7 linked regions of the Homo sapiens genome follow. The protein of the gene in region 2 purifies or fractionates together with the protein of the main gene of each other region. This does not show direct contact. Each region holds a gene or a part of one and is shown on either strand. Other genes may lie near its edges.

What was found.
Region 1: the proteins of SULT1A1 (region 2) and THADA fractionate together in Homo sapiens (co-fractionation; one large-scale study listed by BioGRID). This does not show direct contact.
Region 3: the proteins of SULT1A1 (region 2) and STMN2 fractionate together in Homo sapiens (co-fractionation; one large-scale study listed by BioGRID). This does not show direct contact.
Region 4: the proteins of SULT1A1 (region 2) and AUH fractionate together in Homo sapiens (co-fractionation; one large-scale study listed by BioGRID). This does not show direct contact.
Region 5: the proteins of SULT1A1 (region 2) and USP34 fractionate together in Homo sapiens (co-fractionation; one large-scale study listed by BioGRID). This does not show direct contact.
Region 6: the proteins of SULT1A1 (region 2) and TPM4 fractionate together in Homo sapiens (co-fractionation; one large-scale study listed by BioGRID). This does not show direct contact.
Region 7: the proteins of SULT1A1 (region 2) and ZFYVE19 fractionate together in Homo sapiens (co-fractionation; one large-scale study listed by BioGRID). This does not show direct contact.

The regions. Positions count from the first base shown.
Region 1 is NC_000002.12:43,571,561-43,576,115, forward strand, and holds part of THADA (tRNA (32-2'-O)-methyltransferase regulator THADA), read right to left. Parts: intron 3,468-4,555; coding exon 2,776-3,467; intron 1,433-2,775; coding exon 1,254-1,432; intron 303-1,253; coding exon 147-302; intron 1-146. UniProt on the Homo sapiens protein: Together with methyltransferase FTSJ1, methylates the 2'-O-ribose of nucleotides at position 32 of the anticodon loop of substrate tRNAs.
Region 2 is NC_000016.10:28,606,590-28,611,944, forward strand, and holds the start of SULT1A1 (sulfotransferase 1A1), read right to left. Parts: upstream 3,456-5,355; 5' UTR 3,342-3,455; exon of another isoform or gene 2,271-3,341; 5' UTR 2,267-2,270; coding exon 2,119-2,266; intron 2,015-2,118; coding exon 1,889-2,014; intron 1,800-1,888; coding exon 1,702-1,799; intron 489-1,701; coding exon 362-488; intron 267-361; coding exon 172-266; intron 1-171. UniProt on the Homo sapiens protein: Sulfotransferase that utilizes 3'-phospho-5'-adenylyl sulfate (PAPS) as sulfonate donor to catalyze the sulfate conjugation of a wide variety of acceptor molecules bearing a hydroxyl or an amine group.
Region 3 is NC_000008.11:79,617,129-79,621,683, reverse strand, and holds part of STMN2 (stathmin-2), read right to left. Parts: intron 743-4,555; exon of another isoform or gene 722-742; intron 553-721; exon of another isoform or gene 480-552; intron 1-479. UniProt on the Homo sapiens protein: Regulator of microtubule stability. When phosphorylated by MAPK8, stabilizes microtubules and consequently controls neurite length in cortical neurons.
Region 4 is NC_000009.12:91,212,707-91,216,559, forward strand, and holds the end of AUH (methylglutaconyl-CoA hydratase, mitochondrial isoform 1 precursor), read right to left. Parts: intron 3,401-3,853; coding exon 3,353-3,400; intron 1,720-3,352; coding exon 1,642-1,719; 3' UTR 1,117-1,641; downstream 1-1,116. UniProt on the Homo sapiens protein: Catalyzes the fifth step in the leucine degradation pathway, the reversible hydration of 3-methylglutaconyl-CoA (3-MG-CoA) to 3-hydroxy-3-methylglutaryl-CoA (HMG-CoA). Can catalyze the reverse reaction but at a much lower rate in vitro.
Region 5 is NC_000002.12:61,211,948-61,216,502, forward strand, and holds part of USP34 (ubiquitin carboxyl-terminal hydrolase 34), read right to left. Parts: intron 2,748-4,555; coding exon 2,113-2,747; intron 1-2,112. UniProt on the Homo sapiens protein: Ubiquitin hydrolase that can remove conjugated ubiquitin from AXIN1 and AXIN2, thereby acting as a regulator of Wnt signaling pathway.
Region 6 is NC_000019.10:16,095,943-16,100,497, reverse strand, and holds part of TPM4 (tropomyosin alpha-4 chain), read right to left. Parts: exon of another isoform or gene 3,754-4,555; intron 1-3,753. UniProt on the Homo sapiens protein: Binds to actin filaments in muscle and non-muscle cells. Plays a central role, in association with the troponin complex, in the calcium dependent regulation of vertebrate striated muscle contraction.
Region 7 is NC_000015.10:40,812,289-40,816,091, forward strand, and holds the end of ZFYVE19 (abscission/NoCut checkpoint regulator), read left to right. Parts: intron 1-410; coding exon 411-614; intron 615-1,049; coding exon 1,050-1,129; intron 1,130-1,424; coding exon 1,425-1,523; intron 1,524-1,654; coding exon 1,655-1,782; intron 1,783-1,859; coding exon 1,860-1,938; 3' UTR 1,939-2,796; downstream 2,797-3,803. Other genes in the region: PPP1R14D (protein phosphatase 1 regulatory subunit 14D), read right to left, coding at 3,359-3,473, 3,674-3,706. UniProt on the Homo sapiens protein: Key regulator of abscission step in cytokinesis: part of the cytokinesis checkpoint, a process required to delay abscission to prevent both premature resolution of intercellular chromosome bridges and accumulation of DNA damage.

The sequences.
Region 1 (4,555 bases), on a different chromosome or scaffold from region 2:
CAGGTCACAGAACGGCCGTCATGAACAGATGTGGTAGCCCAATTCCATGACCATTCCCACACGCTCCCAAAATCTGGGCTCTTTTTAAAAACGATTTCCCAAACAAAGTTCACCACTTCCCTATGCCTTCTGATGGGAAATTCTACCTTTTTAAGAAGAGAACAGATCTGTTGCCGCACTCCTGGAGACTGGCTGTTAAGATTGTATGTAATAAAGAACTGAATCCACTGCATTTCTTCCATGGAAACAATTTCTGTGCTCCGATTACTTTCACAAAGCAAGCCTAATGTATCTATCCTTACCTAAAAAACATCAAGCAATAAAATGTTAATTTTCCAAGAAATAAGCAAAGCCTAAATCACTTGAATTGCTTACTTACATAGGCTACAAAAGGAAAAAAGTAAACTTCAGTTCACCAATAGGTACCTCAGAAAGGTTTCCTAATCTCAAAGATCCTAGGGTTATTTCCTATACAATTCTTTTATTAAACATGTAAATTGGGGATTTATAAAATGCAACAATCTTAAAGATTTTTATTCCGTGGTAATGCTCAGCTTCATTCCTTTTTCTTTTTTTCCAGTGACCCCTTTTACCCCATCACCTCACTCTTAAATTACTGCCAGACACTTCTAACTGGTTTCCTGGTTTCTTTCTGCTCCCACTCTGGAAACTCACGTTTCCACTAATGTAACTCCTTGCTGAAAACAGAGTAGCTTTGGTTTAGCTTAGTAAAACCAGCTGGTGCCTGGGAACCAACTAAGTCTTTAGCCTAGCATTAGGCCTTTCCAAAAAATGTCCAAAACACTCCACCCCTGATAAGCAATGTTCTTAATCATCCTCCAGACCTTGCTCATTTGGGTCCCTCCATTTTGTATGCTGCTCCAAGGCTTCCTCTTTTCTAATCATATCTATCACTTTCCTAATCAAGCACCACCTGCTCTGATCAGTCTCTTCTGAGCCTTCCAAGCGAGTCCTTATGTATTTAAGGGCACATGATGGCATGCTTGTATCTGTATTGTCAGTTCTAAGAGTTTCCAGTTGTTTTATGTAAGTTTTCTTACATCCTCAACTAAACTTTCAGTAGCTTGAAGAAAGGGCCTACTGAAAGTTTAGTTGGGAGACTAGGGTTTCTACTCATTCTCTTTATGAACTCCCTAAAACAGTTCAGGATACAATGTAGGGGCCTCTATATTGAACTGCTACATGAAAGGGATCTACTGCATGTACAAATCCAGGTAATTTTCTTTACTTACTTGGCAATGCTGATGAATTAAGCCTTGCTTTATTCTTGCATCAGACACGAGGTTCTCCCAGGTATCAGTTGCAGACTGAAGATGTCCATGAGCTCTAGCTATTCGCAGACATGCCATCAAAGCTCCCAGAGCCCCCCTGCTATTACAAGACCCTAAGGATGGGAAAGATTGCTCTTGTCCTGAAAGCACAATAACAAAGACCATTACTGTATTATGCAATGACTACTATAATTATCAGCTGCTAATTTTCATGTTTCCAATTAACATTTTATTTCAATAAATAAAAATCACATTTTAAACTCATTTCTAACACAAATTAAAGTTCCTATTCTAAAATAATCATTATTTAATATGATTTGCCCTTTTGTCAATCATTTCAAGTAAGCATAATTCTCTTATCGTTAACATAAACAAATCATTATTTACCTGCTAACATTTTTGCTTTTTCCCTAACACCTAGAAAGGGAATCAGGCAGCAAATCAGGAAATAAAATCAGGTGGAGAAATAAGCACATCAGTGGCTACAGACTATTACTTCTCTAAAAGTAAACACTGAACCTCTCTGCATATTTTAGAGTGGCTGTTTCTCACTAGTAAAGATTAAAAAAGGAACACAAAGAGCCTGCTGGTTTCAGAGGCTAGGACGTCAGCCATTACCAAGAAGACAGGGCAGCTTGATATAAAAATAAAGACAACCTTACTTCAGAACAGATTCTTGAATCCTGAATTTCAGATGGCTTTTCAAAAACTCAAGAACAAGTGTTGTCAAAAATTACAAATAATGGCTTATTTTTGCATACAGGAATCAAATTTTCCTGCTACCTCATGGTTACTCTTTGAAGTACTGAACGTTTTTAACAATTTTAGTTGAAAATATTTCTTAAAATTATGCTGTACGATACTACATTCTTGCTTTGTTAAACAGAATGTAATAATTTTAAGATTTATATGATGTGTCATGATCATCACTTTACACATCCTGAATTATGCTTGAATGCAGTGATTCCTGTAGGGTTTGTGAGTTTCAATGGGATGTTTACCCCTATTCTAAATAACTATAGATGGCTATTTCTTGAGATCATGCCTCTGAATTTTGTCACTTCCCCAGAGAAAAAAACTTGCTACTGCCAAGTTACCTGTCTTTAACCTTGCCTAACACAATTTTTAATTATTGTCTCAATGACTTGAATAAGCACATTATATAAGACACACAAACTTTTATTTCAGTGATACAATAAAATAAATTCAGAACTTGAAAAAATGAATTAAAACCTTGTAATACAGGAAAGTTTATCATTTTAAGTGGAATTATTCTTTAGCTTGTAGAAATGACTTCAGCCAAAAAACTCCATTCAGCTATATATAGGAACATTCGTTTCAAACTGAAACATCTATCATTAATCTCTTCCTTTACTATTTATAGAAGTGATATTTAAATTTGAATATGATTAGTATCTGCATAGCTACCTACATTTAAGCATCATAATTAGAAACTACTAAAACAAAAATGCATTTTTCTTACCAGTTTTAGCATCAATAGAAGTCTGAAGAATCTTTACCATGTACTGTAAGCTTTCAGGGCTGTAACTTAATAATTTTGGCAAGTAATAATCAATCACGTAAGATTTTTGATCCAAGTTTCCTTCACACAATATAAAAAGGAGAGGAGAAACCCAAGTCTCATGCCACTGGTCAATCCAAGAACTCTCAGCAGTCTGGGATTTCAAATGACTCTTATGATTTCTAAACATGGTTTCCAAGAGGTCACTTGCATAAGGTACCAATGACTGGTCTCCCATCACCTCTAAGATTTGAGATGGAATAGTTTTATCTATAGCCAAAATATGTTCAACTCCTATGCACTCTACCAAACAACCAAGGCACGTGTACTTTCCTTTAATATGCCATTCCAATCGTAAAAGACTCTCAGTCAATTCCACAAAGAAAGGATCAGGGACGAAATCTGCACCTTCCACAGTGAGCCGGTGCATTTGGAGAAGGTTTTTGAACATGATTTTGGTTTGGTGTCTCAGAGCATCCAATGGATGTTCCCAATGGGTATAGACATATTCCAAAAGTCTCCCAACTATACTTGAATTCCCATTCAGGCTGTCCGTTAGGCTCGGGGAACTTGATTCAAGGACTTGTATGGCTGAATTAGTCCAGGATGCTAAGATTCTAGACAGAAACATTTCCAGCGTTGGCTCTTTAATCCTGAAGAAAAATGAGCCATGAGCCATTATTGTAAACTGATTAGTAAAAGAAATTTCATTTTATAACAATTTAGACTTTAAAAATATTAAATACACAGAATGACCACAAATTTCAATTATTAAATTTACAAGAACAAAAAACTACAAGTAAAGCCAAAACAGATCTCAAATTTGTATATGATTCTTTTTACCTTGTAAAAAATAATCCAGAAAGCAGTTCAAGATCAGCCTAGGCAATATAGTGAAACCCCATCTCTATAAAAAATTTAAAAATTTAGCTGGGTGTGGTGACACACACCTACAGTCCCAGCTACTTGGGAAGCTGAGGTGGGAGGATTGCTTGAGCTCAGGAGTGAGACTGCAATGAGCTGTGCTCATGCCACTACACTCCAGCCTGGGTGACAAAGCGAGACTTTGTCTCAAAAATAATAATAGTCCAGGAAGGGACATAGGGAAATTTGGGGGATGATGGAAATATTCACTACCTTGACTGTGATGATTACACAAGTTATTTATTTATTTATTTATTTGAGACAGGGTCTTGCTGTCACCCAGGCTGGAGTGCAGTGGTGCGATCTCGGCTCACTGCAACCCCTGCCTCCCAGGTTCAAGCGATTCTCCTGCCTCAGCCGCCTCAGTAGCTGGGATTACAGGCGCATGCCCCCATGCCTAGATAATTTTTTGTATTTTTAGTAGAGACAGGGTTTCACCATGTTGACCAGGCTGGTCTTGAACTCCTGACCTCAAGTGATCCACCTGCCTGAGATCTGCAAGCCTGGGATTACAGGCTTGAGCCACCATGCCCGGCCTACACATGTAATTTAAAAGATAAGGAAAGCCAAGTGTTGGAGATGGTTGGGGGAATGGGGCTTCTCTGTGATAAAAATATTCTAAAGTTGTTTGAATTAACTTTTAAGATGTTAAAACTTCATTTCAGAAATGTTGATAAGGATCACTTTAGATTACCTATGTTAAAGTGCTTCATAAATTCTAAAGCACTACACATGTAGAAACTTTTATAGTTTTAAAAAATGATGCTAAAAACAAATTTCAGGAAAAAAATTTTTAAAGAAAAAATATAGCAAAGAG
Region 2 (5,355 bases):
CCCGCTGCCAGGTGGGGCCTTAGTGGGGAGGCCTGGGCCAAGAAGGCAGGATGGGGAATCTGGTCCTGCTGTGGGGGCTGCCCAGGGAGGGGGCTGGGTGGCCTTGGCGGGTCCCTGTGAGGTGCCTGCCCCCAGGAGTCACATGGAGGGAAGCATCGCACGTGGTCTCACCTCCTTCATGTCTTCATAGAAGAGGTAGAGAACAGGGTGGGTGCGGCTCAGCTCCCACCACTCCTGCACGTGCTGGTACCAGGATCCGTAGGACACTGGAGAAGCAGGCAAGGGGTGCCAACACAGGGTTGCTGTGCGTTGTAGCCACCACCCCTTAGCTCCACACTTTCCTTCCTCCCATCAAACCCACCTTCTCCGACCATGAACTTCTCCAGGAAGCTGTCCCAGGTCCCAGGCTCAGGGTGCACCTTGGCCATGTGGTAGAAGTGGTAGTAGGAAACTGCCACATCCTTTGCGTTGCGGGCAACATAGACCACCTGCAGGGGCAGAAGACTCAACCCCAGCACCATCACCACACAGCCTGTCCCAGGCCAGCTCATCTCTTGGATTGGCAAAGGAGGAACCTGAGGCTTAGAGGCTGACTTGTTTGAGATCTCACGGCACCGGTAGGGCCAAGTCAGGAGCTGAACCCTGCTCAGAAGCCAAAGTCCTGCCTGGTCCCTGAGACCATCATATTCTATAGTAATATAATCTGCATCAATGCGTCACACCCCAATCTGGAGCAAGGCATGCTCCACCAGCCGTGATCCCACCGCCACCAAATTTTGTGGGCCTGTGAGGACCCACCCTCTAGCTTTCTTAGGTCTACACTGAAGAGTCTTACGTTCTTGGTCATCAGAGCAAGAGGCAGACAGTCCCCGCCGCAGAAGATGAGACAAGGCTGGAGGAAGTGAGGCGACTTTCCCAGAAGAACAGGACCAAAGCTGGGCTGAGCCAGGGCCTCCTTCCCTGGATTCACATGCCCCACACCTGGACCTTTGCTTTTTCTTTTTATTGTGGGATTTATTTTATTTTATTTTATTTTATTTATTTATTTTTGAGACAGAGAGTCTCAAAAAAAAAAAAAAAAAAAAAAGGACCGTGGTCTTTCTTTTTTTCTGTCGCCCAAGTTGGAGTGCACTGGAGTGATAATAACTCACTGCAACCTTGACCTTCCAGGCTCAAGCAATCCTCCAACCTCAGACTTTCCAGTAGCTGGAACTACAGCGCTATGCCACCATGCCCTGCTGATATTTTGCATTTTTATAGAGATGGAGACTCCCCATGTTTCCCGGGCTGGTCTGTAACTCCTGAGCTCAAGTGATCCACCCAATTTGGCCTCCCAAAGTGCTGGCATTACAGCAGTGAGCCACCACAGGTGCCACAGTTTTATTTTTATTTATATATTTATTTATTTATTTATTTTTGTGAGTTTTGCTCTTGTTGCTCAGGCTGGAATGCAATGGTGGGATCTCTGGCTCACCACAACCTCCTTCTCCCGGGTTCAAGTGATTCTCCTGTCTCAGGCTTCGGAGTAGCTGGGATTACAGGCACCCGCCACCACACCCGGCTAATTTTGTATTTTTAGTAGAGACAAGGTTCTTCTATGTTGCTCAGGGTGCTCTCAAACTCCCAACCTCAGGTGATCTGCCTGCCTCAGCCTCCCAAAGTGCTGGGATTATGGATGTGAAACACTGTGCCCTGCCTCACCTTGACCTTCTGATCCAACAGAGTCTGGGGGAGCAGAGCCAGGGGCAGGTGTGTCTTCAGGAGTCGTGGGGCCGGTGTGTCTTTCAGAGTCTCCATCCCTGAGCAGTGGGTCAGGGAAGGTCTGGTGAGCTGAAGCCCCAGCCCTGTCTTCCTCCACTCCCCTTGCACCCAGGACACACTCACACACCTGAGGGAATCCCTGGGGCTTTGAACTCAAGGAAGGGCACCCGCATGAAGATGGGAGCTCGGTGACACTTCTCCAGGTCACCACCCTGGTAGATCATGTCCAGAATCTGGCTTACCCAGGTAGTGCCTGGAGAGGGAGGGAGATGGGAGGTGAGCAGGCTGAGGGCACGACCTCGCTGGCCAAGGTGGGGACTGCCACCTGGGAGAGGGTGGGTGGCCCTCCTCACTTACCGGACTTGGGGTAGGTGCTGATGAGCAGGTCATCAGGCCGGGCCTGGAAGCTCTGCAGGGGCCCCAGTGCCTCTGCAAAGTACTTGATGAGCGGGACCCCCTTCACGTACTCCAGTGGCGGGCGGGAGGTGTCCTGGATCAGCTCCATGTTCCTGCGTCAGGGGCCAGAGCCAGGCCCGTTCCCTTACCACCATCACAACAGCAAGAAAGTGGAATTCTTGCTTTCAGGGAAGTCACTGAGGCCTAGGGAGGCTGAGTGACTTGCCCGCACTCACAAAGCCACTCAGTGGCGGGGCTGGGGCTGAAAACCAGGTCGGGCTCTAATGCGGTGGTTCCCCAGCCTGGCCTCACCTTTCATTCACCTGCGGAGCTGTTCAAAATCCCAGGGCCTGGGCCATGGTGCAGACCAGTGAAAGCACCCTCGTCGGGCAAGGCCCAGATGTCAGGGTGTGTGAAGGTCTCCAGGAGAGTCCAGCTGCACTGAGGAAGCTCTAGGACCTTCCTGTGCTGTCTCCCTGCCAGCCAGCGCCCTTTGTCTCACCACTTCCTGCTGGGACCCCCAGCCTCCACCCAGTGGAGATGCTCCCCTCCTTGAGCCCCTCAGCCCCTCACATGTGGAAACCGCCCAGGCCAGCCAGGCCTGTGATCCACTTGCCTGGCCACAGTCCATCTGGGCTCCAGGACAAACACGGCCCATTGAGGAACTGAGCTGCTACTAGGGGCCAGAGCTGCTGTGGGAATGAACAAAACTCTGATGACTCAGCAAAAGCACAGGCCTAGGCAGGGTGGCTCCCACCTATAATCCCAGACCCTAGGGAGGCTGAGGCCAGGAGTTGGAGACCAACCTGGTGCAGCATTGCAAGACCCCATCTCTAAAAATCTTTAAAAAAATTCTTAAACATTAACCAGGCAGGATGATGAGGGCCTGTAGTCCTAGCTACTCCAGAGGCTGAGGCAAGAGAATCACTTGAGCCCAGGAATTCAAGGCTGCAGTGGCCAGGATCCCACAGCACTCCAGCCTGGGTGACAGCAAGACCTGGCCTCCCCGGGGAAAAAAACAAACAAACAAGGGAAGGGAGGGGGATTCACGCAGGCCAGGGTTGTCTGAAATGGGATATCCATGGGGAAAGGGCAGGGATGCCAGAGGCCTCAGCTTCTGGAATGTTAGAGCCACAAGCTGAGCAGGGTGAGGGCGCCCTGGGCCGTTCCACTGTGTCACTCACCTGAGCTCTTGGGAACCTGGCCTCGTGCCCTCCTCGCCCGCAGTGGCTGATTGTGGGTGTTGTGTGGGGAATGCAGGGTTGTTCTCTGAGCTGAGGGTTTCCTAGGTCCACTGTGGGAGGGATCTGGAGCCGGGGCTGGACTTAGATTTGCTTCCGGAAGGAAGGGGTGGGGTTGGGGGTGGGGGAGCTTCTCCATTACCCTCCTTAGTGTGCCAGCTGGAGACAAGCTTAAAGTGATCTCCAAAGCCACGACTGAGTTTGCTGTGTAGAAAACAGAAGAATGAAAGGGGAAAGGCCCAATGGTGGGTTTGTTTTTGTAGGTTTTTTTTTTCTGTTTTTTTTTTTTTTTTTTTTTTTTTTCCGAGCTGTCACTGGGCTCCTGACCTGCCCCTGAACTCCACCCTGCCAGGCAGCCAACAGACAAGCTCTCTCTAATTGACCCAGGCAAGAGAGGGGAGGGATTGGAGGAGAAAGCTGGGATAGGCAGGCCCTGGAAAGGTCACCTACCTGCTGGCTCCAGGCCAGTCTTGAAGGTGCCAGGGGTTCTGGCCCAGTGCAGCCCACAGGCCCCCAGCAGCCCATGCACTCCAGGCTCTGACCACAAGGCCAGTCTAGAGGGATGTGTGTGGGCAGAGTGAAGGGGCAGGGGTGGAGCAGAGCATGGATGCATAGAACAAGAAAGAACAAGGACACTGCAGTCCCATTGCCCTGGGAGTCAGCCCCAGCTTCATGGCTCCTGGGGACCTCAGAGAACATTGATAGAAGATCCTAGAAGAACCACAACCCGTGGCAGGTGGTTTTATTTCCCTGGGTTTGAAGGAGGCTCCACAGACAAGAGACCAGAGGAGGCCGAGGTTTGGAAGCCACAGGGCCCCGTGGAAGGGGGGCATCCCCCCATCCTCCTCGTTCTTTATCCTCACTTTAAAGTCCAAGGTCAAGCTGTGCACGAGACAGGTAAACAACCATCTGAGTAAAGGTGAATCTCCCAAGACTTCCAAGAAATGCGTGAGTTCAGAGGCAAGCGGACAGGTGGGAGTGTGGGGGAAGCTGAGGCATGGGAATTCCAGGCAGAGGAGAGGCTTCTCATATGCTAGGGCCATGGACCCCTCCTCCCTCCTCTGTGCCCATGAGGAATCCCCGTGACTGGCAGGTCCTCAGGCTACTAGCTCCACCCCTGCCCTCAGCAACCCTCAGGAGGTTCCCTTGACTAAGACTTTGTATTGCACTCTAGTAACAACCTGTCGGACCCACACGGGGTGACACAGAAAAGAGGCGAGAATGTGAGATTAATAGAGTGGTAGCAAGTGAATACAAAATCCCAGGCAGCAGTTTCACATGAGGAGAAGAAGGAAACTTGAAATAGCTGCATGCGCTAAGGGCCAATAAGTCCCTGAAAAATAGGATGAGGACCAAGCTGGCTACGACCAACCAGACACAACATGGCGCTGTATTTGATGTAGGTTTCACCTAGGATCTCATTGTATGATCAGTAACATATGAAACCGTACACCCACCAGTGCCAAGACGGCTCCAGGAACACCTGTATTTGGGTGTAAATTGTGGCACCACGGTCTTGAGAAATCTTTACCTTTTCCTGGACTCTTCATGAATATACCCCTCTTTAGTTGAAGAAGCCCATAAAGGTCAGCCCCACACCTTGTAGGGCATGAGACACTCTCTTGAGGACCCCCACGTTCCTCTTCTTCAGTGAGTCCCTTTACTCTGCAGGAAATCTGCCTACATTCATGACTTTTGCACTTGTCCTTAAATTGTTTCTGGCTAAGGTGCCAAGAGCCTGGAGAAGGCCTGGCACGGTGGCTCACTCCTGTAATCCCAGCACTTTGGGAGGCCGAGGCAGGCAGACCACCTGAAGTCGGGAGTTTGAGACCAGCCTGACCAACATGGAGAAACCTTGTCTCTACTAAAAATAGAAAATTAGTCAAGCCTGGTGGCACACGCCTGTAATCCCAGCTACTTGGGAGGCTGAGGCAGGAGAATCGCTTGAACCCGGGAG
Region 3 (4,555 bases), on a different chromosome or scaffold from region 2:
GGCCACCACTTACCATCCTTCCCTTAAAGCAGATTGAGTTGGGGAAAAGTTGGATGTGGATTGACTGTAACAAAACGTTGAATGAGTTAATTGCTTCTTCTGAGCCAACCTTCATTTAAGAAGAAGAAGGCTCTTCTTTAGGAGGAAGAAGGGCTGGCCAGGTGGGTTCTAATCACAAGAACTGCAAAACGTCTGATGCTGTTGTCAGAGGGACTCAATTAACATTTTATTTCACTTTTCATTACATAGAAAGTATTTTTCAAAAAGCAAATGACGCAGTTTTTGATTGCGCTCCTTGTTCCCTCTTTACTCATTCTAAATGCATGCACATGGGTATTTATATCTAATGACAATTTAAAAACTCAACTTCTTGCATTTATATACTACTTGACAGACACTAATCACTTTCACGTTTTTTTCCTTGAGTCTGAAAAAGACCCTCTGATATGGACAAGGCAGTTCACATGGCTATTTTACAGATGCTGAATTAGAGGAACAAACAGGAAAATTGACCTGACCAAGGTGCGTCAGCAAGAGTAAAGACTGAAACTCAGAATCCCTTCTGGGCTCTTCCTTCCATGCAGCACCAGCAGCACTGGTGGAGAAGGGCAGAGCTGATGGGGACTTAGACTCTGACCTCTTGACGCCTTGTTGCAGAGCTCCACAGAGGACGTAACTCACATGCTGTCCTGGCCTGCTGCTTGGGGACCCTACAGGTCACTGCTGTTTTAGGTCTACTCCAAGTGTGGTTCTGAATCAGCCTCATCAGCACCACCTGGGAGCTTGTTAGAAATGCAAATCCATGGGACCTGCTTCAGACCTAATAGAGTGAGAACCTCTGGGGGTGGAGGCTAGCTCCTCAAACGCTGCTGATTCTCAGTAAAATTTGGGAAGCATTTTAATTAAAGAATTCTCTGGCCAGATTGGTTGATGGACTCATTAAATATTTAAATTTTTCAGCCTTTTGGTGGATCTTGGTACTTCCTAGTTGATGTTACTAGTGTATCATTATGTACTATCTTGTAATATTGTAGGGCAGTTTAACAAAATTGTTAAGATGGTGAAATTGTGAGATGGTGACTTCCATTTATAGTTATAAATTACCATTATTACTATTGAACTTTCTGACATGTACAGGATCTTTTTTTCTGCAAAAGACTAAATCCACCAAGGGTGAGGAACATTTTTATTTTTGTTCTCATAATACCTGGCACAGGCTTCAGAACAAAGTTGGTGCTCCAATCTATTTTACTTTAGTTAGTGACACTGACTATCAATGACTTTAAACTGAAGACAAATATGCCTCGTGTATGACTATTCTCACTGTGCATGTTTTATTACAGGACAGTGGAGGGAGTGCTAAACCTTATTTTGCATGAATGTGTATATATGTATGAAATAGGCACATACATGATATATAACATATTTATATATTACATATAAATATTTTGATAGGTAAATAATATACACAACTTTATTATATGTAATATATATATTATATGTTATAATATATATATAATATATATTAGACCTGTGTTCCGAGTCTGCCTCTGAGGCTTGCCACTGAATAAATTATTTGAGCTTAAATTTACCAATCTTTAAATAAGACAACTTGTATAGTATGCCCATCTCAGAGGGATTATATGAAGATTCAAAAGGATGAAGCAGGTGAATGTTTTCTAAAAATGACAAGGTCCCATATAGATAGATCATGCGATTTAATTTTTCTTTTGAACATTTTTTAGTCTTCTATGCTTGCCTGCTCCTTTTAAAAAACTATATAAGAAAAAAATCATCAGAAATATAATAAAAAGATAATTTTTAAAGTGACAAGAGTGCAGGATCATGTAATATGTCATTAAAAGACTAGAACAACTTTGGTAATTTTTCATGTGTTTGAATATTTATTATGAGAAGGGTGCTAATTGGAATTTCTCAGATAAAGCTGTAAGACTTAAATAATAACAATAGATATTTTTGTTGGAAATAAAAAGTAACTCTGCATTAATAAAAATAATTATGTTCTGAAGCAGAGTTCCCAGGGAGGCTGCAATAAGTCTATCCTAAAAGTGCCTGAGATGATTAATGTTCTTCCCGAGAGTCTGGAAATGATAACAGTACCATCTTGATGGGATTTTCTGGTCTCAGTTTTGTAACAGTCAATATATTATAAGTTGGGGTTGTTTCGTGTGAGTTAGGTTGCTCCTCACTAGGAAGCCCAAACTGGGAAACTATTATTATAATAGGTTTACTGTGAGCAGCTTTGTTAATGGAAGTTAAACTTTATGGCTGCATTTCATAAGGAAAAAAAACTTCCAAAGACAGAGTAGAATGCTAATAAAAATTTAATTTACACTTTAACATGCTCTCTTGTAAAAGTATTTGTGGGACTAGGTTTAGATAAATTTCACTCAATTCTCTTTATCCTGATATAAAGACATACAACTAAAAGATGGACAGATTTATTATCCTGATGATCTATTGTTATATTGGGTACTTGTACTAATGGTTAATGTGCGAACTCCAACATCCAAAATACAATTATTCCAGAAGAATAACTGCTAAATGGGCACTCTTGCAGGCGTTGCTTTACAATCTTTGTAAAAAAAAAAAAATCATTCAGTCCTAGGCAATATTTTTGCCCTATAAAAATAAATTATTTTAAATGTGCTCTATGAGAACTGTAATTATCTATTTCTTGCCATAAAATAAATTTTGAAACCCATAACTTTCCAGAGTATTAAATATTTTACTCTGGAGGTCAACAACAAGTGAGAACAAACTTAAAATATTTTTGTTATGGTTTTATAGTATAATATGTGGCTCCTACTCTAAGTACAATTCCTAAAGAAGCTATATTTCCACATGACCAGCAAAATGATGGCTGAAATGCATTAATTAACCTTTACACTCATATAAAAGTGTTTTGTGAGAACAAATGTACACAAATGTTATCTTTAATCATGACTAATAAAAATGGATATTATAAACACAAGCTTTACTACTGCAAATGTCTCCTTGACAAATGACAGGGCCTGATTCCTTTATTAAAAGATAATTAAAAATGTTTCACAAGGGATTCAAAACCTTCCTACAGTTCTCTCCTGCCTGCCTGCCTGCTTTGATGGTAATATGAAGAGAATCTTGAAATAACATCTAATAGTTATATTAAATGTGAATGTGTAAATTTATTTTATTCAACAAAATGTTAAAACTAAATATCTCTGGCCTATGGAAGTAGTTAAGGAGGCATTTTGAAATGTGCTAACCATGATGGGACTGAGGAGATTAAGTCAATGTTATTTCTGGAACTGGTCATCAGAGTGTGTTCCCACCAGAAATCGATGCTGTGCTGAGCCTGCAGAACGCCATGTGTCTCATACGTTACAACCCACACGGCCTCATAGCTCTCTTTCTCCCAAAGCCTAAATCATGGCAATTATTTGAATAAGCCCCAGGTAAGCTATTAAAACTAGGCATCAATTTGGAAGTATTTTCTCTTCAAGGTGAGTCTGTGATCAGAAAGGAGAAGACCATCTCTGGTCTGTTTAAATAAAATGGTGATATCACAGGTGTGACCTCTGCAATGGGAGCTCACCTCTAACATGGAACAGATATGAGACTAGCAGCAATCGGTGAAAGATGGATTCCGAAGCCAGATGGCCTGGGCCCAAATTCTGGATCTGACTAACTGTGTGACCTTGAGTAAGATACTTCAACTTTCTGTGCCTCAGTTTCCATATCTGTAATAGAACCTACTTAGGATTATTAAGTGATTAACACAGTTAATATGTGGAAAGTTCTTAGAACAATGCCTTGCATGTTATATGTGCTATACAAGGGTTAAATCAATCAATAAAAGTTACTTCCCATAGAGAATCTGGAATTTATGAATACACCAGAAAAACAGTTGAAAGAAAGCACCATTGCGGGAAAATGTTTGAGTAAAGAAATAGGAAGACTTATTGGCTCGAGGCCCTCAAGTTTAGATTTTTGTCATCTCCAAATGAGGTTATACAGAGAGCCCTGCCCGACTGCCAGAATTAAACATTTAAAACATGAATTACTTTTGTAATGCTGTCTTAAGTGTGTCTTCCTTTCCTTCAATGTACAAGAAATTGCAAAAATGGAAAGTTTCCCAGCTTCTGAGAGACCCTGAAATGAACTGTTAACAACAACTGAATGGCTAACTTTGAGACTTAGTCCAACTTTGTGTTGAGTAACAGTATATTCTGCAAACCCTGAAGCTAGTTTTATTTGGGATCATGTTTTTAGTGCCCTATTTGGGAAATGTTATATTTTTTAATTTGAGATATTTCGTGTATTGTATCATTTTTGCAGCATAATATTTCCAGAAAGGTGGTAATGGCTGCATGGTCAGCCAGTCACTGCATGGGAGACCTGACTATGTCTTTGATGCTATTCCTTGAAGATCCTCTTTCTGATCTGTAGGTTGACTTCCTTAGAAAGTTAGAATTGAATAATGAAGATCCTTTATTGGCTTAGATAAGCAGAAGAAAACACTCTTTTCAAATATACAGTCATACTCAATAAA
Region 4 (3,853 bases), on a different chromosome or scaffold from region 2:
GTGAATTTTAGTAAGCCCTCTTTATAGTATGATGATCAGCTGAGCAATCATCATAAATCCGCAGAGCCTCAGCACCAAAGGTCATAAAGAAAATAGCGCTCACCTTAGTGTCCAAACATGAGTGAAGACACCGCCTACCTTTGTCAGGACAGACATCAGCAGCCAGCCAGTCCACATTTGCCTCTTATAAGAATTTTAGAATTGAGGTTGAGTTCAAATTCCTAAGTTAAAAAATGTAAGTTTCAGAATTAAAAAAATGAAGCCTACATGCCTTCAAATAGCAATGAAGTCGCCACAATGAGGATGTAAATCCACAGTAAAATGGGTGTTTATCTGATACATGGAAATGTGAAAGGAGGACACCTTAGGGACACAGCTGGGCTGTACCACAGTGAAGCTTGCTGCAGGGGCACTCCCGGGGACGTTGTCTCTGGCATGACCAGACTCAGACCTGACACAAACTAGGAAGGCAGGGTGGTTTGGTAAAATGAATGTAAAGTAGAGCTATCTCAAATTACTTAAAGGCATCAGAATGTTCTCCTTTTTTCCACAGCGAATTCTCCAGTTCCCAATGTCCCACACAACTCCCACCAGTGCCTACTCCCCAGGTGTGGCTACTCAGGCATGCAACCTGGAGGCCGTTTACAGCTTCTTGACCTGGCCTGGGTAGGAAGGCAGGTGTTTGTTAGGACAAAGGGTTGTTAAGTTCACCTCTTTCCCTTACAGAAATTGGAGGCAAATAGCAGAGGGTAGGGAAGCAGAGAACAGTCTCCACTTTAATCCATGACCCCAAGCCATTTCCATGCTCCAATCCTGGCTGCCCCATTTTCTTTCCTCCTTTGTGTGCAAACATCGCCTTTCCTAGGCCAGTCGGCGACCACACCACTTGCTGGGAGGAGGTCCCAGCAAGTCCCACTGCACTAGGTCTCCTGTCCGCTTTGGTTCTTTGGCTTCAGTCTTTGGATTCATTCTTCACCTTCAATACTGTATTACAGGACTGACCATGTAAAGAGGTTGCCTGATAGAAGCAGCAATGAAAGGGTTGTTTCTTCTAAAGTCCAGCATGCAATGATTTAGTCAATTCAAAAAGAATGGGGTAAGAGAAAAATTCCCATGTTTTCTTTTCACTAATTTTATTTATATTAGGTAGTTTTCACTCAGAATATCAATTCATTTTTCAGGTTTAGATATATGTATATGTAGCTGTTCGTATGCATTAATCACTTAGAAACTTTATTTGGTATAACTTCACATTTTTGGTATATAGAAATTTTATTTTCTTAATGCAGCACAGTAGACATACAATCAATATTATTCCCTAGAATGTGCAATATATAAATTATTCACATTAAAAAATTAACAGAAAGCCTCATATGCAGTAAATATTTAAAAATGTATATCTAACTTTGATTCTGTTTCTGACTATACACTACTAGCTTTATAAATCTGAATGAATATGACATTTACACATTTGAATGAAGTACACGGATGGGTCCATTCCAGATGCTTATTACACCGTATGAATAATCTGCTCTTCACTTTGGTCATTAAGGTTCCATGTGCTGAGGCATATAGTGGATCCGAAAGACACTTCCAGGAAGTACATTTATTACATTGGCATCTTAAGAATTTCTGTTCCTTTTATTCTCCTTTATAGCGAGGGGGCCTTTTCTCTTTAAAAGCAAGAAGACCTTCAAGTCTGTCTTTTGTTGGAATGGTCTAAGAAAAACAAAATATTAAATATGTCAAAAATGTTAAAACAACTGTAAAAGTTTATCAAGCACTATCTAAGAAAACTACTTAGAACCACATTCTAAAATTTTGAAATCAGTCACCTGAACAATTCTCCTAATTATGTAACCAAACTCATCCTTCTTACTCCAAGTGGTCCTCTACCCCATTTTGCTCTTCTTTTTCTAGTTTCCTAATAAGGTGGAAGGTTATTATCGATTTAGATATTTTCTCTTTTCTATTATATACATCCAATGCTATTTCTATCTAAGCACTGCTTTCAGTATATCCCACAAACTTTGAGAAGTTGTATTTTCATTTTAATTCAAAATACTTTATAATTCCTCAAGACATCTCTGACATATAACATTATTTAGAAGGATGTTGTTTAATCACCCAATATTTTGGGTTTTTCCAGCAGTCTTTCTTTTATTGATTTCTAGTTTAATTCCATTGTGGTCTGAAGAATACCTTGAATAATTTCTGGTGTTTACATTTAGTAAGTTGTAATTTATGGCCAAATGTGCTTTTAAAATTTTTCTTTGGGCTCTGAGGCTATTTCTAAGACGTTTGTAATTCACTTTCCTCATGGCACGTACTCATCAATGACAGGTGGTGATTTATATATACAAGCTGGGCACAGAGTCACACTCTAGATACTGCTCCTTTAAACGAGTGCTCATGCAGTTTCCAACTCCCAGGAAAGGTAGAACAAAACTTTTTTGCTATTTCAGATGCCCTAAAACAAAGTTCTATCTTTCAGAGAAAGACAAAAAAGGGAAAACATTTTTTTTTTCCTCTCCAGGAAGACCTAATAATTTGTATGCAGTCATCCCTCAGTTATCTGCAGGGGATTGGTTACAGGACCTCCTGCAGATGCCAAAATCTGCAGATGCTCAAGTCCCTTATATATTAATAAAATTGCATATCATATTACCTACGCACATCCTCCTGTATACTTTAAATCATCTCTAGATTATTTATAATACCTAATATAATGTAAATGGCATGTACACAGTTCTTATACTATATTGTTCAGGGAATAATAAGGAAAAAAGTCAGTACATGTTCAGTACAGATGCAACCATCTTTTTTTTTCCTGAATATTTTCAATTTACACTTGGTTGAATCCACAAATGCAAAACTTACAGATGAAAAGGGCCGACTGTGTAAAAAATAAAACTATAATTTCATTAGTGAACTTTCAGTGGTCAGGAGAGACAGATCAGAGGTTCAGGAAAAGCCAAGCAGTCTCACCCCAGGTTGCATGGCAGGCACACGCTCATCACCACTCTCCTCTACCTCTCTACATTGCAGTGGGAGGCCAGGACCAATCCCACAAAAGAAAGCATAAGCCTAGAGAGACAGCTCCTGCACACCCAGGACTGACTCAGTTACTCTAAGAGTTTTCTAGATTATATAGACAAGAGGCATTCCTGTGGAACAGAATCAGTCATAAGAGCTGGTAACAAATAGCAGAAACAACTAATTTCAACCCATTTGTATGATTTTGGAATGGGCGCAAGGGTAATCTTGCTCAGTGAAATTCATTTGAATTATACAGAAGGTAAATATAATTTGTAAGGGTCATCCTCATTGAATTTGTGATTGCATTACATACCTGAGCATAACAAGCTTCTTCTATGGCTAACCCTGTTACTAAATCGACCTGAGAATAAAAACATAATCCATTTCAGCAGAAATAACTTTGCGAAATGTGGTATATTCAACAGAAATTCAAATTGAATAACCTTATCCCCAAAGCACCCAATCCTTTGATATAGTACAGCAGATCAGAGTGTGACCAACATGAGACACAGAACCAGGCTTCCTGGGTTCGTCCTGACTCCCTCACTTGGGAGCTGAGTTACCTTGGGGAAGTTATTTAACCTCTCTGTGCTTCAAAGAGGCATGTCTGAACAAGGGGCTAATTATAATGCTCACCAAATGGGAGTATTGTGAGGATTAAATGAGTTAATCTAGGTGAGGCCTTTATGTCGCGACACACACACACACACACACACACGATGCTTAATACATAGTAAGGGCTATATAAGGTATTTGCTATTGGTATTGTTACCATTATGTAAATATTTAAATAAACCAATCAAATACTTTTGCA
Region 5 (4,555 bases), on a different chromosome or scaffold from region 2:
CCATATGATCTTTTAACCCTATAGCATTTTAGAAGGTCAGTTTCTCATTTCTACGTTCATTAATCAACTCTTAAAATTATACAAATAAGCTAGATTATACTTCCATTCAGAAAGTTATAAAATCAGTAACAAATTCTATTTAAAAAATTTTGGCTGGGCGCAGTGGCTGATGCCTAGCACTTTGGGAGGCAGAGGCGGGCAGATTGCCTGAACTCAGGAGTTCGAGACCAGCCAGGGCAACATGATGAAACTCTGTCTCTACTAAAATACAAATAATAACAATAATAATAAACACTAAAAGAACTCAACAAATCTTAAAATACAAGTTTAGAAAGAGTAAAAACTGTAAGTGAATACAATTCATTTTTAGTCTTATTACTGCTTAAAGCACTACTTTTGTAACTTCAAATGTAAACCCAGAGGCATGCCACACCATCTCCTATCCACTTTTTCTTTAATTAATGAGAAATCATTACTTTGTCACAAAGATTTTAAATGCCTAAATAACCCTTAAATTAATAGTGTATATGAGGTAAACCTTTGTTCCAACATTTAAAATGCTTTTCTAGAATGATGCTCAGTTCAATTTCCTGATGAATAAAAAGTAAAAACAAATATTTTAGTAAAATCACTAGCTGTGATTTTATAGACTCATATGCACATGTCAGGAGAGGACTGCTCTTCTAACACATACTTGTCAATGAACTGAAACCCCCAGCTTCTTATTTTTCAAAGCAAAAAACTGACTTAAGTACCATTTTCATGAAAATTTCTAATAGATAAGGACATTCTACAATAAAAGACATTACATTTCACTGATGTCAAGGGCAATAAATAACATGGAGGGATAAATTCTAACTCATCTAGTACTTGTCAAAGTATATTTAATTCTGGACATCACATCTAGTAACTAGATCAAATATTATTTATGTGAATATGATAGAGACAAATTTACTGAAACTTAATAAATCCTATCCCGACCCCTTTGAAGTCAGAAAGATTGATATTTTGTATTCTTATGGCATTGGTTTTCAATTTCTTGGTACTTGTACACTCACTCTCTTTCCTGCATTGTAGGGATTCTGATTTTTTCTTTTGAGACAGAGTCTTGCTTTGTTGCCCAGGGTGCAGTACAATGTCTCAATGCAGCCTCAACCTCCTGGGCTCAAGCGATCCTCCCACCTCAGCCTCCCAAGCAGCTGCGACTATAGGTGCACACCACTACTCCCAGCTAATTTTGTATTTTTTGTAGAGATGGAGTTTTGCCATGTTGCCCAGGCTGGTCTTGAACTGCTGGGCTCGAGTGATCCGCCTCTGCCTCCAAAGTGCTGAAATTACAGGTGTGAGCCACTATGCCGGCCTGGGATTCTAATTTTCTCTGACTAGAAATTAGGTTATTCTTCCCAGGTGTGAGATTCTATACAACTCATTACACCATCTAGAAAAAAAAAGACCGTCTATAAAGGACGGTCTGTCTTTAAAGTACAGTTTACAACAGAGAATAAGAGGCAACAGTGAAAAGTTATTAACCAGGTTTGACAGCTTTACATCGAGGGGAGGAAACTTAATATAAAACCTACAAGTAAGTGTGCAGAGTAAAAGGGACCCAATTTAGACTGCATATATATGTATCTCGATTGATCTCTTAAGCATTTCATTTGTTTGGATGCAGCTTGAGAAAAAATACTGCGGAATACTACTAGTTTTAGATATAAAATTGTCTAGCTCACAGTTTACCACAGCATGTAGATTTTGCTAAGTATCTGATTTTTAAATAGCAAAGTACTCAATTCCTTAAAACTGTACCATGAAGCTGGCTTTTTTCATTAGGCACACATGAAGAATACATTTACAAAACCACAAATTAAAAAACAGGTAAGTTTTACTGGATATGCAACTTTAACTTCACCCTAAGAAAAGTTATCTACACAGTTATCAATTTTATAACAACACAGCATTTTATATATGTATTTAAGAAAACAAATACACATTAAGTTCTTAAGAAAGAATGGTGAGACTATTCTATATTCTGCCACCACTTCCCACCAGGGGAAAAACAGGTATTTCCAATCTATTTGAGGATACAGATAAAAGAGTATCAATTTTACTCACTCCAGGGTATTGGCTGGCATGTGGTGTAAGATTCTTAAAGGCCCACTGGATGTTCTGGTGAGAAGCCAGTTGTCGTGTGAATGCAGGAGACTGCTCACAGCAGAGCCTCAGAATGCCATAGTACGCTGGCAGCATCCCACGGTTAAAAAGCACCACATCCTGATCATCATGGTCAGCAAGGATGTAATTGAAGGCAATGTTCTTGGTTACCACTGGGTTCTGAACAATAAGGCGGATATTCTCTGGACAGTCAGCACAGACATTGTACCAAAATGAAAGCAAAGCCTGTTTATTGTGATTTGTAGCTATTGCTGGCTCAGAAAGTTTAGGCTGGAAAAGGTTCCACAAATCCATGAAATATGTGGAAAACATCAGCTTCTCAGTTTTGGAAATTAAACAGTAAGTCATAAAGCTAAAATAGGGCACTAGCTTTGTAGTGCCATGAACAGCAGCATCAACATAAAGTTTGGCTCTTGAGAGCAAACCAAGGAGCACGTTGTAGACCTGATGTAGGACTACTGTTGTGTCTGGACTGAGTGGAAGGTCACGGGTTGGGATGTGCAAAGACCTTGTTGACCGGAACATCTGACGGAATGAATTGCTTGGTATAAGGGACACCAGAAGATAAGCTGCAGCTATAAAATGTAAAACAAAACTGTCAGATCCTTGTAAGATATAAAATAGACTGAACAGCAGTCATTAATCACAAAGCCACTGTTCCCTTTAATAATTAAAATGAATAAAAAGGGACATGAACATCTCTTTTAGTATCTTTCTGCTTTCCCCTTGGCCCCACAAAAAGATCCCAAGAGGTGATAAAAATAGATACCTTCTATTCTGCCATTGTTATTTTTGAAGTGGCAATAATTTTTAAACCACTTTTCTTTAGCTTGCCTAAGATGCAGAATTTTCCCACTTTATCTTTTATTTCTTCTCAGGAAGTAGTATGATTTAACAGAGGGAACCCAGCATTTGCAGTCAGAAGACCTACCAAAAGGTACCTGAGGAGGTCAAATCATTCAATGTTCTACAGTCTTAGTTTTCTTCTTAATTGAAAAATAATGATAATTTACTTTGTAATAACATACAGATATGGTAAAATATACTTGTTATAAAGAAAGAAATAGATATACATAAAAGTTCAATATATAAGATTACATATATGCTAATTATAGAACATTAACTTTGGAAAATCTTTAAAAGTCTTCTAAGGCTAACCTTACACCAAAGGAAAGAACTGGGTGTTAAATTGTAACCAGATAATATATATTTAAGTTATAAAGAAAGAATGAGATATACATAAAAGTCCTATTTGATTACATATATGCTAATTACAGAACATTAACTTTGGAAAATCTTTAGAAGTCTTTTAAGGCTAAACTTACACCCAAGGAAAGAACTTGGTGTTAAACTTATTAAGCCTATGTTATAATGCTGAGGAGTTAGTGACTTATTAGTTGCGCTAACCTGTAAAAGCAGTTACTATCAACAAAGCATTGACCTAGGTGCTGTATAAACTTCTCATTTAATCCTCACAATGACCCTGGATGGAGGTAACAGTGCTCTGGAAAATCTGAATCTTGGAGAAGCAAAGACCAAGGTCACACAGATAAAGAGGTGGAGGCTAGATTTTGCCTTGAGAAACAATGATGATGATAATGATAATGGTAAAACAATAATAGTAATAACTATAATAAGAATTGTGAGCCTTTACCAAATGTATACTATTTGACGTCATAACTTTATGTGGCAGGCATTGCATTTATTATCCCCACTTTCACTCAGGCTTACAACAATGGGACTATCTCAGCTTACACAGCTAGTGGCCAGAGCTGGGATTCAAATCCAGCCAATCAGATTCACAGGCTAATAATGCTCCTAACATTCACTATGGAACCTCCTCAAGACTCTCTAATGTCTGAGTTTGGGTTCTTTTCAGGACAACCATTATTTGTCTCCCCCTATTCTAACTATAACTTGATAATTTCCATTGTATTGTCAAAGCAAACAAAGTTAGGGTTTCTAAAATTAATTTTAGTTTATTTTACAAATTTATTTCCAAATTAAACTTTGTGCACAATACTCCATTTTCTAGATATTTCTTTACCTATATACTAGTCTGCTTAGTCAGAATTTTTAAGGCTCAGTTTGTTATGTGTTTCAAATATAAAAACCTGGCATGTAGGTATCATCCTGATCAATTTTTGCATAAAACTTCAATCAAGAAAAGTAATTTACGATTTAAAAAAGCCATTTGGCGGCTGGGTGCGGTGGCTCATGCCTGTAATCCCAGCATTTTGGGAGGCCAAGGCGGGCGGATCACGAGGTCAGGAGCTCGAGATCATCCTGGCTAATATGGTGAAACCCCATCTCTACTAAAAATACAAAAAATTAGCCAGGCGTGGTGGTGAGCGCCTGTAGTCCCAGCTACTCGGGAGGCTGA
Region 6 (4,555 bases), on a different chromosome or scaffold from region 2:
AATACTAAGGAACAAGCACCAAATTTGGGAGTCACAGTTGTAAGATAAAATGCAGGGCGCCCAGTTAAATTGAATTTCAGATAAACCACAAATAATATTTTAGTGTAAGTATATCCCAAATGTTGCATGAGATGTACTTATGCAAGAGATATACTTATGATTAAAAAATTATTCATTGCTTATCTGAAACTCAGATTTAAGTTGGTGTCCTGTATTTTTCCTTGTGAACTCTGGTAACCCTTGAGTCAGAATACCTGAACTTAAGCTCCAGTTGTATCACTTAAGTAAGCATCTAACCTTCCTAGGTCTGTTTTCCCCGTCTGTCAAATGGGGGTAACGATATCAATGCGTGGTGTGGGGGTTATGATGAGGAATAAAGGAGAAATACTTCAGAACCTATGACGTGCTGCTACATGAAGATTTCAGTCCTAGATATGTGTGACTTAATATAAATTTCCACCCAAGTGCTAGTTAATTAGCCCCTGAGCCTTTGATAGTTAAATCTAAAATCCTGTAACCCATCTTTCCTTCGGAGCTTCTGGGAATGGCTGTTTAAATTATACACATAATTGTGTAACTGTCTATGAATCCAGGAGAACGGAGACAAACCCCAGGTAAATGCGAAATTTAAGCCATTCTACAGGCATGTTATTAAGTAACTGAGCTGATGAAACAATTTAAATTAAAAAAGAAAGAGAGAGAGAAAAAAGACGCCATTTAGAGCTATGCGTGACAGAGCACGAGAGAGAACTTAGTTTGCAGTAAGTGATGGCTGATAAGGGACAAGGCCAAGACTCATTAAAATGCTGGGGGAAAGCAAAATGCCTCATAAAATGTGATATCATCAGCCTGGAAATTTACAGAAAGAAAAAAATGACTGCAGAAGATGGCAGCCTTTCTTATTTATTTATTTTTAAACAGGGTCTTGCTCTGTTGCCCAGGCTGGAGTGCAGTGGCATGATCATAGCTCACTGCAGCCTTGACCTCCTGGGCTCAAGTGATCCTTCTACCTCAGCCTCCCAAGTAGCTGGGACTACAAGTGCGTGCCACTACACCCAGCCAATTCTTGTATTTTTAGTAGAGATGGGGTTTCGCCATGTTGCCCAAGCTGGTCTCATGCAATCCACCCACCTCGGCCTCCCAAAGTGCTGGGATTACTGGCATGAGACACCATGGATCCTTGATGTAAGGAGTTCGAGACCAGCCTGGCCAACATGGCGAAACCCCATCTCTACTTAAAAATACAAAAAATTAGCCGGGTGTGGTGGCGCACACCTGTAATCCCAGCTACACAGGAGGCTGAGGCAGGAGAATCACTTGAACCCGGGAGGCGGACACTGCAGTGAGCCGAGATTGCGTCACTGCCCTCCAGCCTGGGTGACAGAGTGGGACTCCATCACACACACACACACACACACACACACACAGAGTCAAGTGACTATGACCTGGGAGGATTCTATCAGACAGATCAGTGACCTGGGCCTATCCAGTCTGGGTGAATAGATGTTAACTGAATGCTGACTATGTTGGACGAGCCAGTTTCTCCATTATCTCATTTAATCCTCATAACAGAGATATCACCTTTATTTTGCAGAAAACCTAAGCAGCTTGTTCACGTTGGCATGGTTAAAGTAGTAGAGCTAGGATTTTAAATCCTGGTCTCTTTATTTATTATTTTATTAAAAAATTTTTTAAAAATAAAATATTATTATGAATAATTTTAGAGATGGGGTCTTGCCATATTGCCCAGATTGGTCTCAAACTCCTGAGCTCAAGTGATCCGCCTGCCTTGGCCTCCCAAAGTGCTGGGATTACAAGTGTGAGCCACTGCGCCAGGCCTTAAACCCTGGTCTCTTGACTACAAATCCTGACTTCGCTTCATCTTGTCACTCAGATGCTTTAGCATCTATTTTGTTATTAGGTCTGAGATAAAATGACTTTCCCTGAAAGTGTTAACTGCCCTTGAGAATCACGACAAGGCTCACAGACTATCAACAGATAGTGTAGACCTCCATAGTGCTAATCTCTTTTCTTTTCTTTTCTTTTTTTTTGAGGCGGAGTCTCACTCTGTCGCCCAGGCTGGAGTACAAAGGTTCGACCTTGGCTCACAGCAAGCTCCGCCTCCCAGGTTCAAGTGATTGATTTTCCCACCTCAGCCTCCCCAGTAGCTGGGATTACAGGCCCCCATGACCATGCCCGGCTAATTTTTGCATTTTTAGTAGAGACAGAGTTTCACCATGTTGACCAGGTTGGTCCTGAACTTCTGACCTCAAGTGACCTGCCTGCCTTGGCCTCCCAAAGTGTTGGGATTACAGGCGTGAGCCACCGTGCCCGGCCATAGCACTAATCTCTGAAATTCCACTTATGTGCTTAGTTAGGTAGAATAACTGGATAGACAGGCTGCATAGTTACTTCAAAGGGTGGAGTCCAGAAATGCCTGGAGAAATTCCAGGGACAAACACACAGACTCCAAACAAAAACCAGCCCCCTACACAGTCTGTAATCTTTCCAAGGGCATATATATGGCAATGTGTGAGGGGAATGGTTTTTGCAGAAGTTCAGGATGGACGGCAGTTAGGAGCAGGGAGAGGCTGAGGGTGGAAAGGTGGAGGTGGTTTAGGGGAGGTGCATTTTGGAGGAATGGATGAATAGAGAGAGTAATGGGGACAGAGCTTCCCACCTGGACAAAAAAATAGGATGAGGAATAACAATGGATACCGAAAATTCAGGATCTAGTTGGAGATTTTCATGCCATTTCCAGGTTCAAGGGGTAGTCTGGAAGATGTGGCTTGAACATCTAAATGTCAATTATCTGTGATAATTTGAGGTGGTAGTGGTGGTAGGATGCAGGGGAGAACCAGATGCACTATTTGAAATTTTGGGACAAATTGGTATGTTTTTGATCATTAGAAAAGCATAGCTTGGGCCAGGTGCAGTGGCTCACACCTGTAATCCCAGCACTTTGGGAGGCCGAGGCGGGTGGATCACCTGAGGTCAGGGGTTCAAAACCAGCCTGGCCAACATGGTGAAACCCTGTCTCTACTAAAAATACAAAATTAGCCAGGCATGGTGGCGCATGCCTGTAGTCCCAGCTACTTGGGAGGCTGAGGCAGGAGAATTGCTTGAACCCGTGAGGCAGAGGTTGCAGTGAGCAGAGATGGCGCCACTGCACTCCAGCGTGGGCAACAAGAGCGAAACTCCGTCTCAAAAAGAAAGAAGAAAAAAAAAAGCAAAGCATAGCCTGGGCCGGGCAAAGTGGCTCACGCCTGTAATCCCAGCATTTTTGGAAGCTGAGGTGGGCGGATCAGTTGAGGCCAGGAGTTTCAGACCAGCCTAGCTAACATGGTGAAACCCCATCTCTACTGAAAGTACAAAAATTAGCTGAGTGTGGTGGTCCGCGACTGTAATCCCAGCTACTCGGGAGGCTGAGGCATGAGAATCACTTGAACCCAGGAGGCGGAGGTTGCAGTGAGCCAAGATGGCGCCACTGCACTCCAGCCCGGGCAACAGAGTGAGACCCTGTCTTGAAAAAAAAAAAAAAAAAAAAAAAAAAAAAAAAAAGAGTGACCTTGTTTTCTCCATATTCCTCATGTAGGAAAAAGCATGACCTTTTATTACCCACAGGTCAACCTTAAGAGCTATTCTAAACTAAAGCAAGGTTCCTGTTATAACTAACTGAAATATGAATGGAGATTGATGTTAGCAGTCTCAGGCAATTCTGGAATTCGGGAAAAGAATTCTAAATTCACGTCTTCTGACGTCACAGCACTTTCCCTGTTCATGGAGGCCCGTTCACTCCTTGTACAGTCAGTTTTCTAAGGGCAGGGCGTGGAGGTGAACTTCCTCCCAGGACTGGGAGCTGGATGAACAGTGAAGAGTAAAGCCACGGGAAGCCCCAGTCACCACACTCACAGTGTAACACAGAGAAAAGACACAAGAAAAGGAGGAAATGGAGATCAAAATGTCACTGCCGCTGTTTGAATCTGTAGCTCAAGCCCCATTCAAGGGGAGCCTCATTTTTGACACAGGCTTGCTGGTTTTTCCAAATCCCTGTTGACTCTTAAGCTGCCTAAGCGGTTTACAAGGATGAGCCTCCATTCACAACAATTTCTATTTAAGGAAAAACCATTGGGGATGGGCGCGGTGGCTCATGCCTGTAATTGCAGCACCCTGGGAGGGTGAGGTGGGCAGACTGCCTGAGCCCAGCAGTTCAAGACCAGCCTGGGCAACATAGTGAAACCCTCCCGCTTCTACAAAAAGTACAAAAATGGCCAGGCGTGATGGCTCAAGCCTGTAATCCCTGCACTTTGGGAGGCCAAGGCAGGCGGATCACAAGGTCAGGAGTTTGAGACCAGCCTGACCAACATGGTGAAACCCTGTCTCTACTAAAAATCCAAAAGAAAAATTAGCCAGGTGTGGTGGTGTATGCCTGTAATCTCAGCTACTTGGGAGGCTGAGGCAGGAGAATTGCTTGAACCCGGGAGGCGGAGGTTGCAGTGAGCCGAGATTGCACCACTGCACTCCAGCCTGGGCGACATAGTGAGACTCCGCCTCA
Region 7 (3,803 bases), on a different chromosome or scaffold from region 2:
TGTAATCCCAGCACTTTGGGAGGCTGAGGCGGGTGGATCACGAGGTCAGGAGTTGGAGACCAGCCTGACCAACATGTTGAAACCCCGTCTCTACTAAAAATACAAAAATTAGCCGGGCATGGTGTCACGTGCCTGTAATCCCAGTTACTCAGGAGGCTGAGGCAGGAGAATCGCTTGAATCCAGGAGGCAGAGGTTGCAGTGAGCTGAGATTGCACCACTGCACTCCGGCCTGGGTGACAGAGCGAGACTCCATCTCAAAAAAAAAAAAAAAGAAAGAAAGAAAGAAAGAAAGAAAGAAAGAAAAAATTATTAAAGAAAAAGAAAAGAAAAGGTTGAGAAATGGGCTCATTGGCTTCTGAGGAGAGATACTGGGATGTCTCGGCCTTGCTGATGGCATTACCCCTTCCAGCTGCCTCTCTCCAGAATGATCTCAACCAGGGTGGCCCAGGGAGCACTAATTCCAAGAGGCAGGCCAACTGGTCCTTGGAGGAGGAGAAGAGCAGACTGCTGGCTGAGGCAGCACTTGAGTTGCGGGAGGAGAACACGAGGCAGGAACGGATTCTGGCCCTGGCCAAGCGACTAGCCATGCTGCGGGGACAGGACCCCGAGAGAGGTGAAGGCTGGGGAGCAGCTGCTCACTGGTATCCCTTGGTCAAGGCCTCCCTGGCAGGGCTGAGTCAGGTGCTGGGGGTATTTGCGCCCAGAGATCTACTGAGCCCAGCCCAGAGCCACAAGGAAGGTGGTAGAGCAAAGCAGTGGGTGAGGAGTCAGGGGCAGCCATGAGGGCAGGGGACCTTCAGTCCATTCAGGGGCTGAGGCTTTCGCTCCAGCCCCCAACCTAGCCCTCAGGCCTGCTTCAGTGATGGCCCAGCCCTGCAGGGCTGGGGCAGGCAGGGACAGGTCATCAGGGTGGCTGAAGAGGCTTCTCAGCTCTGGAATAAGTGCCCCTGGGAACCGAACCAGTTCTGGGAGGCAGGAGGGCAGCCACTCATGTGAAATCTCTCACTCTCACTCCCCCATCCCCTGTTCCCATGTCTCCCTCTTCAAGTGACCCTCCAGGACTATCGCCTCCCAGACAGTGATGACGACGAGGATGAGGAGACAGCCATCCAAAGAGTCCTGCAGCAGGTGGGCCTGGATTACCCACCTGCCACCCCTTGTCCCGTCTCCGCCTCATTGCCCCACCTCTACTCTGGGGCTGGGTGGACAGTAACTGTGAAGCTCCTGTTCTCTTTGGGCCCCCTCCTGTGACCCAGACCCAGACCTGCCCACTGGTCCCTGGAGATAGGGAATCAGCAGCCACAGGCCACAAGTAAAGAAAAAGATGAGTTTGAGAAGCTAAGTCCACAGTGCACAGAAATACTGGGAGATGGAGGGCCTGGGCCTGAAGCAGGGGAGTAGTACATCTTCACCCTGTCCGCAGCTCACTGAAGAAGCTTCCCTGGATGAGGCAAGTGGCTTTAACATCCCTGCAGAGCAGGCTTCTCGACCCTGGACGCAACCCCGCGGGGCAGAGCCTGAGGTGAGAAAAGCCCCAGATGCAGACCCCCAGGCTCCCCCCAGCCTTGCTTCCTGCCTGGCTGACTGCTCCTGCAGCAGCTCACATACCCCACTGGGTACCTTACTTCCTCCATTCCTCTCTGATCCCTGAAGGCCCAGGATGTGGACCCCAGGCCTGAGGCTGAGGAAGAGGAGCTCCCCTGGTGCTGCATCTGCAATGAGGATGCCACCCTACGCTGCGCTGGCTGCGATGGGGACCTCTTCTGTGCCCGCTGCTTCCGGTGGGTGCAGGTGGAATGTTCTGTGCGAGAGCTCAAGGGCTGCCTGGATCCCTGACTTGTATCCCTTTGTTCCACAGAGAGGGCCATGATGCCTTTGAGCTTAAAGAGCACCAGACATCTGCCTACTCTCCTCCACGTGCAGGCCAAGAGCACTGAAGACACCCTGGTCCTCCCGGAAGGGCAGTCCCACAGGCAGCGGCACCCATTTCTGGGCCCAGCCACAGGACGTCCGATGGGAGAGCTTGTCTGGCTCTACTGATGATGGATAGGCCCCTTCCTGAGCCTTGGTGTCCCTGGAATGAGGAAAGATTCTCCATTCGAGAGAATGACTGGGAGGGAAGAAGTCGGGGCCCTCCTATTAGAAGCCCAGACTGGAAGTGAGAGGCATGATGGGGAGAGACCAGACTGAATCTACGGGTGAGCCCTGTAACCTGGCTCTAGGGCACAGGCCCCTCCCCTGGCACTTAGTGGGTCTAATAAAGTATGTTGATTCATTGGGCCCAGCATCTCATTTCTACAACCCTATGAGCCTGGGCCCTGTGAGAGGTGGCAGGAACAGAGCAGGCTGTAAGCACAGTTGTGGGGAATGGGGGAAAAGGTTGAGCCATCCTATGAACTTCTCCAGGCAGGAACAGCCCTACCCATCCTGGTGGCCTCATACGAAGTAAACATGTATTCATTCAACTCAACTGTGCTCCAGCTCTGGGCAGCCCCACTTAGCCACCAGTCCCCACCATCTTGGATTTCTCAGCCTCTCTACTACTCACACAATGCACGCAGGAACAATGCACACACACCCTGCTTCCTGCCTTACTGGCAAAGGACCCCAGCTCCTAGGGCTCCTGTCCCAACCTGCCTGCCATTCAGTCTCAGTATCTCTCTTCCAGTAATGCGCCCTAACCGGACCCCTGACCTCTCGGCATGTACCCTTTACATGCCTCTGCATTGCCTCTGCTGTTTCTCTTCCTGCCCCTGGCTGGAACCAACTATAAAGAGCCCTCGGGCTGAGGTCTACCTCCTGCATCACTTTTGGTTGGAAGAGCCTTTTCTGAGGCTCTCAGATCCAGCTAGGTTTTTCCTGTTACTTCCTCTCTGGGATTTGAAACTAGTCTTTGCCATTGGCGTCCCTCTTGTTGGTTATGCCAGTAGGCTGTGTACCTTAGGCAGATAATGTCTGCTTGGCCCCGAGGCCTTGCTAGATTGTGATCTCTCTGAAGTGGAGCTGTGACTTTCGTCTTTGAATTCTTGAGTCCTTTGGATGGATGGATGGATGAGGTGTGTGGGCACAGCCAAGTGACTTAGGTTGTGGCCTTCCTGTGTATCACTTCATTCTCTCCTCCCCTGTCCCTCAGCACAGATATGTTCCACACTCCATTGAGCTGGGGCTCCTAAAGGTTTTATCCACTTGGCTGCCAAGGAAGGCATTGGACAACAGCCAGCTTTCTCCCAGAGAGCCCAGCTGACAGAAACTAGCTGTGACCACACAGACAGTAGGAGTATGCAAATGTCCCTCCTTGTCCACATTTCTTGTTTGTGTCCCAAGGAGCTATTTCCCTCTTAGCCAGGATCTGGAGTTTCAGGGCAGGCCTGGCAGTGCTGAGGCTGCTAAAGATGGTCTCTCAGGCTTATTTCTGAGGCCGGCTGAGTCTCCGGAGTTTCTTGAGTTGACTGAGCAGCTCAGAGATAAAAGCCTGAGGGAGAAACAGGAGTGAGACCAGGCTTGGGGTCACAATTCACCCCCCACCCTGCCCTCCCTAATCTTCCCCTGCCCCTGACTCCCCAGAGAAGGGAGAAGGACCCACAGCCAAGCCTTCCCTTCAAATACTCCTCATTAGCTACCTCCCCCATTGGGCCTCCTCTTACCCCAGACCAGCAGAAGAACATCCCTTACCTCTGTGGGGCGGGGGCAGTTCCCAAGAATGGCCTAGATAGGAGAGAACACAGACAGGGCCCCAAGTCACAGCACTTTCCCGCAAGTCCCCACCAATCTCCCAAGAATTCTCCCCTCTGGATTGGTTCTC